Linked DNA regions of Homo sapiens: region 1 is linked to region 2. Evidence: fine-mapped expression QTL. A gene starts in region 2. The other region holds a variant in brackets. All regions are shown on one strand. Distances are from middle to middle. Region 1 overlaps ABHD2 (abhydrolase domain containing 2, acylglycerol lipase). Region 2 holds the start of ABHD2 (abhydrolase domain containing 2, acylglycerol lipase).

Evidence for each region. PIP is the estimated chance that this variant, and not a neighbour inherited with it, causes the effect. A credible set is the group of variants that fine-mapping cannot tell apart.
Region 1: its variant is the best candidate, but not a certain one, in a credible set for the expression of ABHD2 in whole blood (INTERVAL, PIP 0.70).

Annotation. Positions count from the first base shown.
Region 1 is chr15:89,136,699-89,141,088 of GRCh38, reverse strand. The region is part of intron 3 of ABHD2 (abhydrolase domain containing 2, acylglycerol lipase); the gene reads right to left. Among named protein-coding and RNA genes, the nearest start is that of ABHD2, 50 kb to the right of the region's middle. RefSeq lists enhancers at 528-1,027, 1,028-1,529. The variant AG/G (reference allele first, on the strand shown) is at 2,234.
Region 2 is chr15:89,086,249-89,090,638 of GRCh38, reverse strand. It overlaps ABHD2 (abhydrolase domain containing 2, acylglycerol lipase), which reads right to left and starts at 2,183. Exons shown (of 11, transcript NM_152924.5): 1 at 2,076-2,183. LOC124903573 reads left to right here. Exons shown (of 7, transcript XM_047433432.1): 5 at 1,707-1,804; 6 at 1,953-2,571; 7 at 2,698-3,078. The coding sequence ends at 2,912. RefSeq lists enhancers at 1,524-2,043, 1,985-2,164, 2,775-3,420.

The sequences.
Region 1 (4,390 bases), 50 kb before region 2:
GCTGAGTTAAGAGGATCACTTGAGCCCAGGAGGTCAAGGCTGCAGTGAGTTATGATCGGGCCACTGCACTCCAGCATGGGTGACAGAGTAAGACTCTGTCCAACAAAAAAAAAAAAGTGAAACTAAACTATTAACTATAATAAAGTTATGCCCTGAGCATCCCTTAGTAACACACTGTCTCTGGGCAAAGGGAGCCAGGCAGTTCTCCCTCAGTGCCACGAAGATGGCTGGGGCTGTGGATAAGCACAGATGGCACTGGTGGCTTGAGGTTAAGGCCATGTTGTGAAACAAAGGAAATGGAAAACAAAAACACATCTTTAAACGTGAAGATACAGTAAGGTGCTCTCTCTCGCAGGAGAGACACACAGGCCCTGGTACCAGCAGAGGTGACGTGAGGCTCCCAGATCACACACAGGGGGGGCCTGTGCTCCTTTGAATGGAGAAGCTGGCAGAAGGGTCAGCACAAATAAGGTGGTGTGTGTATGTGTGTGTCTGTGTGTGTGTGGGGGTCTCTCTCTCAATCTGTAGAGTTGAATTTGCATAAGTTAAATGTACATATGTAACTCCATTATATATTAGAAAGCATATCAAGATAATAGCTAACTATATTGTAACGTTAAAAAAAAAGAAGAAATTCATCTTTAATTTATCACCTGCCTAAATTCCAAAGCATCAGGTACAAGAAGGAATTTCAAGCACAGAGAAGTGTTTTTGCTGGATTCTGTTGGGCAAACACAGCCACCTCCAGTATTTGCCTGGAACTTACTCTAGAGGTTTATTTAAAAGGTCATCCAGCAAAATGAATGGCTATCTTCTCCAGGGCTTGTGACCATAAAATGTCAGGTCCACAGGTCTTTCAGTAGAGCTTGAGGAAAAGAACTGCTAACATAGCACGTGAGTGGAAGCCTCACAAGTCCACAGGCTCTGACTGTTCCTAACACAGGCTGCTCAGCTCTACACACCGGCTGTGTCACTTTACACTCTGCCCTCAGACTCCCCTCTCTTTCTGCAAAACCCAAGTCCAAAGGGACTCTTCAGCCACTGAGGCAAAACGCAGAGGTGTTACATCATCCTGGGAAGCCCTCCCAAGAAGAAAACTCTCTCCATCAGGGCTACAGAGACCTGCTGCGTGGCTGCTCCAGACAACTGCACACTCAAATGGCTGGTGATGTCCTCTGCTGGCTGCGTGCTGAAACTCCGGTCAGATTCTAGTTAGGTGCCAAGACTGTTAGGAGACATAGGCTCGGGATGTTTCCTCAGTTTCCAGAGAGAATGCCCATCTTCACAGGCCCTCCACTCTGCTTACTTGAGTGCACACACTCAAGGGAAGAAAAGCAAATTTTTCATTTCAGAAAAAAATATTTGTCCACTGAGAAAAAAAGGTGACCTTTACTCTGACAAACAGATTTGTTTTCAGAGTGACAACATGGACTGAGGATGCCCAACTAGGAGTGTGCTGCTGGCACCTGGGGCCAAACCAAAGATGTTATCAGGTCCGAACCTGCCTCTACCTATATTTTATTTTGGCTCTTATATATTGATTTAATAAAATTCAACAAATACGAGTGCTGTGAGGCATACAGAGATTAGAGCCGGACACAGTGACCGCCCTGGTGGCATTCGTAATCTGAAGGTAGGATGCATGATGAATACACAGGCAGCTACTGTCACAGACAGGAGCGGTGGGCAATGGGGTCAGAGAGATAGAATAGGATGATACTATGGGGAGACAATCATGAGGCTGAGAAGTACCAATTTCACTTAGTGCATCATGGGGAGTACCAAGATCTCAGAGAGGAGAGATATTTCTGAGCACCAAATCTCTCCATCAGGAGCTGGGTGAGTCATGTCTCTAGTTTATTTATTTACTTATTTTTAGAGACAAGGTCTTACTCTGTCACCCAGGCTGGAGTGCAGTGGTACAACTACGGCTCACTGCAGCTTTAACCTCCCATGCTCAAGCAATCCTCCCATCTCAGCCGCCTGAGTAGCTGGGACCACAGGCACATGCCACCATGCCCAGTTAATTTTTTTTTGTAGAGACAGGGTCTTGCTATGTCGCCAGGGCTGGTCTTGATCTCCCGGGCTCAAGCAATCCTCCCACCTCAGCCTCCCACAGTGCTGGAATTATAGAAGTGAGCCATCCTGCCCGGCCTTCTAGCTTAATCTTCACAATTCTGAGCAATGGTGTCTTCCCCGTTTTAAAAATGAGGAAAAAAAAAGAAAAAAAAAA[AG/G]CTAGGATTAGAGGACAGGTCTCTGATTCAGTCCAAAGCGTTCCTTACTTTATCACACTCAAGACTCATCAACTCCCCCAACCAGAAGTTAAAATAACAGCTTTGTGCCTATTTTCTCCTGTCTGATCAACTGTCAAAATGTTCTATATTAAATAATGTTTCTTCAAATTGAAAACTGAATTTGTTGGAGCTTCTCTACAGTGGTCTTCACAGGTCTTTGAAAAAAAACATTTCTTTCGTTTTGCATGTTTCTCACAACTGTAACTGACTTCTTGTTAGAGGAGTTTTTTTCTGCAGAAGATACATCTGGGGGCTAATTAATTTGAATATTCACATTTAATTATCTCTAAGATAAGGCCAGAATGTTAACAAAATCATACTGAATATCTCCCCAAAGATCCAGGAGAGCGATGACAGTGAGAGCAAGAGAGGATGGAAGTGCTTCTAGAAAGGTGACAGGTGTTTGATTTGGGGATACATTTTTACCCTACTTTCATGGGTGAGAATAAACCCAGGAGGACAAGCATCAGTGGTGGGGGAAACACTGGGAGTGAAGCTTTGTGGCAGCTCCACGAGTCTGCAAACTGAGTTCCAGGCCTTCCTGTGTGTGCACATGTGCATGTGCATGCATGTGTGTGCACACAGGAAAGGTAAGGAAGCCGGCAAGGGCCAGAGTTTAGGAGAACATTTTGTCAGTTCTTTTCCAGATCCTGAACTGCCAGAGCCTCCCTGCTCCACAGGCCTGGAAGCCAGGGCCCTTGCTGCTCCTACCACAGACACCTCTGGTTTCTTTTCTGGCCTATCTACCCCTAGCCTGGTGGACCTGAAGCCAGCAGGTCAACAGCAGGTCCTTCGTGAGCCCATCCCACTGGGCTTCACCCTTCTCCACTAGGACACAGCCCCCACTGGAAGCCCTTCTTTTCAGGAGGGCCAGATGTGGAGTAGACCCTGTGTGCACATCTCACCAGTCCTACTGGGGAGGTAAGGCTGAGGCTGGGAAAGGGCTTCCTCATTAGCTTCAGGAACAAACACCTTGGGCCTTTCATCTCAAAATGGCAGCAACATATTCAGCTTCCCAAACACCCATTAATAGGCTCATCAGAAATCCACTTTGAACACAGCATTTTCCCCTCACTGGAGGCAAATTCTTCTCCACAGCTGTCACACATTACATTTTCACTGTTGTTGCTAAATGCTCTATTCCTGAATTGCAGGATCTGCACAGGAAAATTCCAATGCAGAGACTGTTTCTGCCTGAAATGACCAAAAGTGGCCTGAGGAAACAAAAGAGCAATCCTCTTCCGTTCCCGAACTGGTTTCTAAATACAGGACGGAGGCCACTGGGCCAGGCTGGTACATCTGTGACCTTTGTGCATATCGTGCAAACTATAAAATATGAATGTTAGGAGAACAGCCCCATGAGTTACAATAAAACCACTTAAAAAGAAACTACTTTTTTGCTCCAAGGAAAAATAAATGTGCTTTTCTAAAGTTCAAAGAAAACCAGTTAAAACCCCTCAGAACTGTATCCACATGTTAAATGCATCTGATCCCACTATCTTCCTGTTCACAAACAGCACGCGGAACTGGTCACATCCTCCCTAGGCACACCAAAGCACAGTCCTCTCTCCTCACGTTGCATTTCAACCTGGTTTTGACACCATGCTTTAAGTAGGGAGGCAGTTTATTAAGAAGCTCCAGAGTTCCAGTCTCCAGGGTTCCACTGGAACCCTGGATCCGTTAGAGAACTGGTCCTGCAAACAGCCAGTCAAAGATTAGTGACCTAACTTTAGGAGAAGGCACCACTATTCCCAGACCTGGGCTGCCAAGGTGCTAAGTGCAAAGTTCCCAGACTCACTCTGTGCTAACCAAACAGGATGTACGCTGACGCTCAGAACACAGAGCACCCGTGTCTTGTCCCCATCTGCCTAGTCACCTCTCTCCTGAGGACATGCACATAGATGCCAATGGTCTGCTCTTTGTCCAACACAGTGCCTTTTGGCTACTTCCCAGGCCAAGGCTACCTCAAAATCTGTGCCAGCGTTATGGGGAGGGAAGATTAGAGCTGGAAAATCACATTATATTTGCCACTATTCCTAGTGGAGGAAAACTCAAATACCTAAATGTGAAGCCCCTGGATTACCTACACAGAATGC
Region 2 (4,390 bases):
GAATGTAACTGCAAGGGGGAACTAACATAGAAACTAAATTACCTGAATCACAAAAATAAGTAAGGTATAAAATGCAACGTGACTTGGAAACCCCTTGCAGCTGTCTGTGTTAAAATGAAATCTGGAATATGTTAAATGAATTTGGGGGTGGGGGGAAGGGGACTGGGGGAAAAATTAGCTCTTGATAGAGTATTGGGTGGTGGATATGAAGAAAAATGTACAAAAAGGCAACAGAATATCATATCTAGCAAATCTATTGTGCTTACCCTGTGCCAGGTACTGTTCTAAATGCTTCAGATGTAGTAACTCCATGCACTTCTCAAAACAATCTTCTAACATAAGTATCATTATTATTTCTGTTTTAGAGGTGAGGAAACAGAGGCACAGAGAAGTTAAGTAGCTTGCCCAAGGTTGTACAGCCAGTAAGAGGCAGGGCTGGGATTCAAATCCAGGCACTCAGGCACCAAAATCTGTCCTCCTAACCTCTCTGGACTCCCCTAGAACTTAAAACACTGAGAATGGGCAAACTAAGCTTGGAGTGAAATAAGTCATGCACTGGCTAGATCTAAATACAGTCAAGAGATCAACCCTTAGTCATGGGCCTGTGATGACCAACCAGCCCTGTGACCACCCCAGGCCTCAGTTTCCTCACCTGTGCATTGAGGAGACTGAATGAGAGTCCACCTAATTAGACTTAGATAGAGATGAGCTCTATCTAAGGTGCCTTCAGCTCTAAAATGTCACAGTCCGTGCTGACTACCAGCTGTATATGGACTGCTTTCTGACTAGATGTTCAAAGATTAATTCATCCTAAAACACACAGCAAGGTGTGTTAAGATTCTTTCTCTGCCTCCTGACCTTTAGATTATTATGTTCTCTCTATTCCGGCAAATGACAGAGGGTAGTGAAGGATTTCTCTTTTGGACTCTGCTTAATGTGGCTGTAAGGAAACGGCCTTCGAAAAGCTCTGGGCACAGATCTTGTTGACTCTGCCAAACCTGCAGTCTCTCCAGGTCCCTCTGTGGAGCCTGTTCTTGGAACATGCCTTTGGATTTGGTTACTGGAATGCAGGTGAAACTGACAAACTGGAGGTCCAGCAACCAAAAAAGAGAGATTGGGAAGATTAAGAGAGCGGTCCATGGTAGTTCAAATACAAGGAGTTTCACAGTGGCTAAATAAACCTCTATCTTTTTGTATAATCCAGTCTCTTTGCTAACACCCACTCTTGAGAGCTGAAACCTCAAAATTCATTATGGGTGAATTCAACAGCCACTTGGAACCTAATGGACCCCCAGAAGTACTCTTCTCAAGCTAGGCATCAAAGGCCACTTAGAGTGCATTTGTGGGTAGAGAAGGCCCTTACAGATGGGTCATGCAGTCCTCCCTTGGGAGTCCTAAGCATCCGACACAGGTGGCTGTCATCAGGCCACTGCTTGGACATCGCCAAGGTCGAGGCGCTAGCTGCCCGGCCTGGCAGGCAGCCTCCTGCGCTGCTGGACAGCTCTAGCTGTGGGAAAAGCTCACGAAGGGCCTAGAACAGTGCCGGTCGCGGGGCCGAACTCGGTAAATGTGCTTCCAAGTGGGTCAAAAGCTGCCTTTCTAGAACTTAAACCCACTGGTCCTGCGTGAGCCCCTGGAGCCCCGAAACACAGAGGCCTCTCGGGTATCTCGGGCTGTAATCAGGCCCCTCGGCCCTCTCCTTCCAGGTGCGGATCCCGGACCTTCTTCGCCGAGCCTGAACCGGCAGACCCCTCCCCAGGCCCCTGAAGACCCAGGAGTGAGCACCAATGGGGGAAAGGCCGCGGTCGGGGTTGTCCCCAACCTCGGTTCCTCGGGCAGAAGGGGACAAAGGGCCTCAGGAAGGCGTATCCCCCGCCGCGATCTGGGCTGTCCCCACCACTGGGCAAGCCAGCCCCTGGGACCCCCACGGCGCCAGATGACAGGCCCCCCAGGATCCCCTCAGGCTGCGGCGTGATGGGCCGAGCTACGCCGGGGACCTCGGGGCTCGGAGATTCGGTTCGACGGGTCCGGGGTGCGATCCCCGCTCCGCGGAGCTCGCTCGGCCGTGGCTTTACCTGCGTGTGATTGACTACAGGTGCTCAGCTCGCCCCCAGTCTGGTTCCTGCAGCTCCCCGGCTGCCAGCGGCGCTCATGGATATACAGCCGGAACCCCTGGCCAGTGCAGCTCCCGCCGCTACCGGCCCCGCCCAAGTAACTGCCGCCACGCCCCTGACGACCGCTTCTGCCACGCCCCTAACCACGGAAACCGCTTGTTCATTGGGCAGTTCAGCCGCTTCTCCACTTGCCCCGCGCGCTCATTGCGTCTAGGAGGGGATCCATTGATCAGCGAAGCTGTTCCTCAGAGTGGAGGCGGGATTCTTAGGGGAGAGCTCCTCAGCAATTGGTTACATTTGACGGCTTTAGTCCAGGGACCCAGACGCTACTGGATAAGGCCAGCCCGGAGTGGGCGGGGAAAGGGGAGGAGGGCTAGAAGGTGGGTCGTGTTTGATGTCGATGGGGGCGGGGTGAAGAGACGGGTAATTGTGACCGCAAACTGCTTTAGAGGGCTGGGTAAGGTCAGCTGTCGACTGGGCTCAGAGGAATGAGGTCGGCTGGTAGCTCAGCTGCTGGTAGCTCAGCTGGGGCTCTTATGGGTCCAGGCCGACTGACTGACTCACGTGTACTCAAATTTCGCAGGGGTGAAATTTGAGGTCATATCCCGGGAGAGAGGAAGAAGGGTCGTGAGTCACCGAACCCGAAGGAGAGGAAAAGATGTGGAGGCAGCGGTCTATGGCCTCTTCCAGCTCCGGACGGGGGATGGGGACGCTCTGGGCAATACGGGCCTCAGTTATTGTCCCACTGTCCTTTCAACCCTTAACCAACCCAGTTGGAGGCCGCCTGGAAGAATGTAGCCTTGGAACTAGGGCCTGGAATTGGGGCTCCTACCGGTTGTGTGGGCTTGGGCAAGTCACTTAACCTTCCCGCATGCTCCCTTCACTTGGCAACTGAGGGTAACAATAGTAGTTGATGAGAAGATTAAATAAACTCTGATAAATGCCAACAGTGGCTGGCACTCAACAGGCATTCAATCAAGGCTGATTCTTCCCCCATCACCCACTCACCTCATCCGGCTGGGAAACTAGGCCCATTTCTAAAATTCTATGAGCCTGAAACTGCTTTTGCAATGGCATGTCGTGTACCAAGAATAGAACACTTGAGCGACTTGAAATGCAACCCCTGTAGGGCAGACAAGGCCACCCTACCAAGGCCCCATAGGGCTCGGAGAGAGGGAGCAGGGGATGAAATGAGAGGAGCGATTTAGTCAGAGAAGGGAAGTGGCATTTGTTACCATGTAAATTTTTCCCAACATATTTCAGGTTGTGACAAGGAACAGTGGGCTGGCTCAAGTTTTATGGAGCGTAACCAAATAACATCCTTTGAAGGCTGATCAGCACCGGACCAGAAATCATTGCATGAGCTCTATCTGTCAGAGACCCCTGAAACCCATTCCCCATTCTGAAGGTGTAGACATCACAGAGTGTGGACAGAAATAGCTTCTCAGGCCTGAATGTAGCCCCAGACCCTTTGTGTCTGTCTTTGAAAGAACTCACAGCCATGGTACATCAGAGTGAAGGAGAAGAAAGAATCCTTTGCCATTGCTCTATTTTTCATTCAGTTGTCATGTTACCTTGAAAAAAAAAGGTTTCATCTCAGTGTTTATATATTCCTCTGTATTCTCTTTCATCTTGGAAAAGAAAAACCCAGGCTTCAGTAGCAAAGTCTCTTAGTGATGAACCCCATCGTCCTGACTCTGAGTTAAAACAGTTTGGACTTCCAAAAAAGAGCTTTAGATTATCACTAGATAAGTATATAAGGTAATGCATATGTTAACTAGCTTGGTGTAGCTATCCCACAATGTATACATGTATCAAAACATGGACCGGTACAGTGGCTCACGCCTGTAATCCAACATTTTGGGAAGCTGAGGCGGAGCCCAGGAGTCTGAGACCAACCTGGGCAACATAGTGAGACCCCGTCTCTACAAAAAATTTAAAATTTAGCCTGATGTGGTGGTGCATGCCTGTAGTCCCAGCTAGTGGGGAGGCTGAGGCAGGAGGGTTGTTTGAGCCCAGGAAGTTGAGGCTGCAGTGAGCTGTGATCGCACCACTGCACTCCAGCCTGGGCCACAGAGTGAGACCTTGTTTGACAAATAAACATAATAACATGATAAACATAAATAAGTAAAGCATGTTGTACATCATAAATATATACAAATTTTGTCAATTAAAAATTAATAATAATTTAAAAAATAGGCTGGGCACAGTGGCTCAAGCCTGTAATCCCAGCACTTTGGGAGGCCAAGGCAGGAGGATCACCTGAGGTCAGCAGT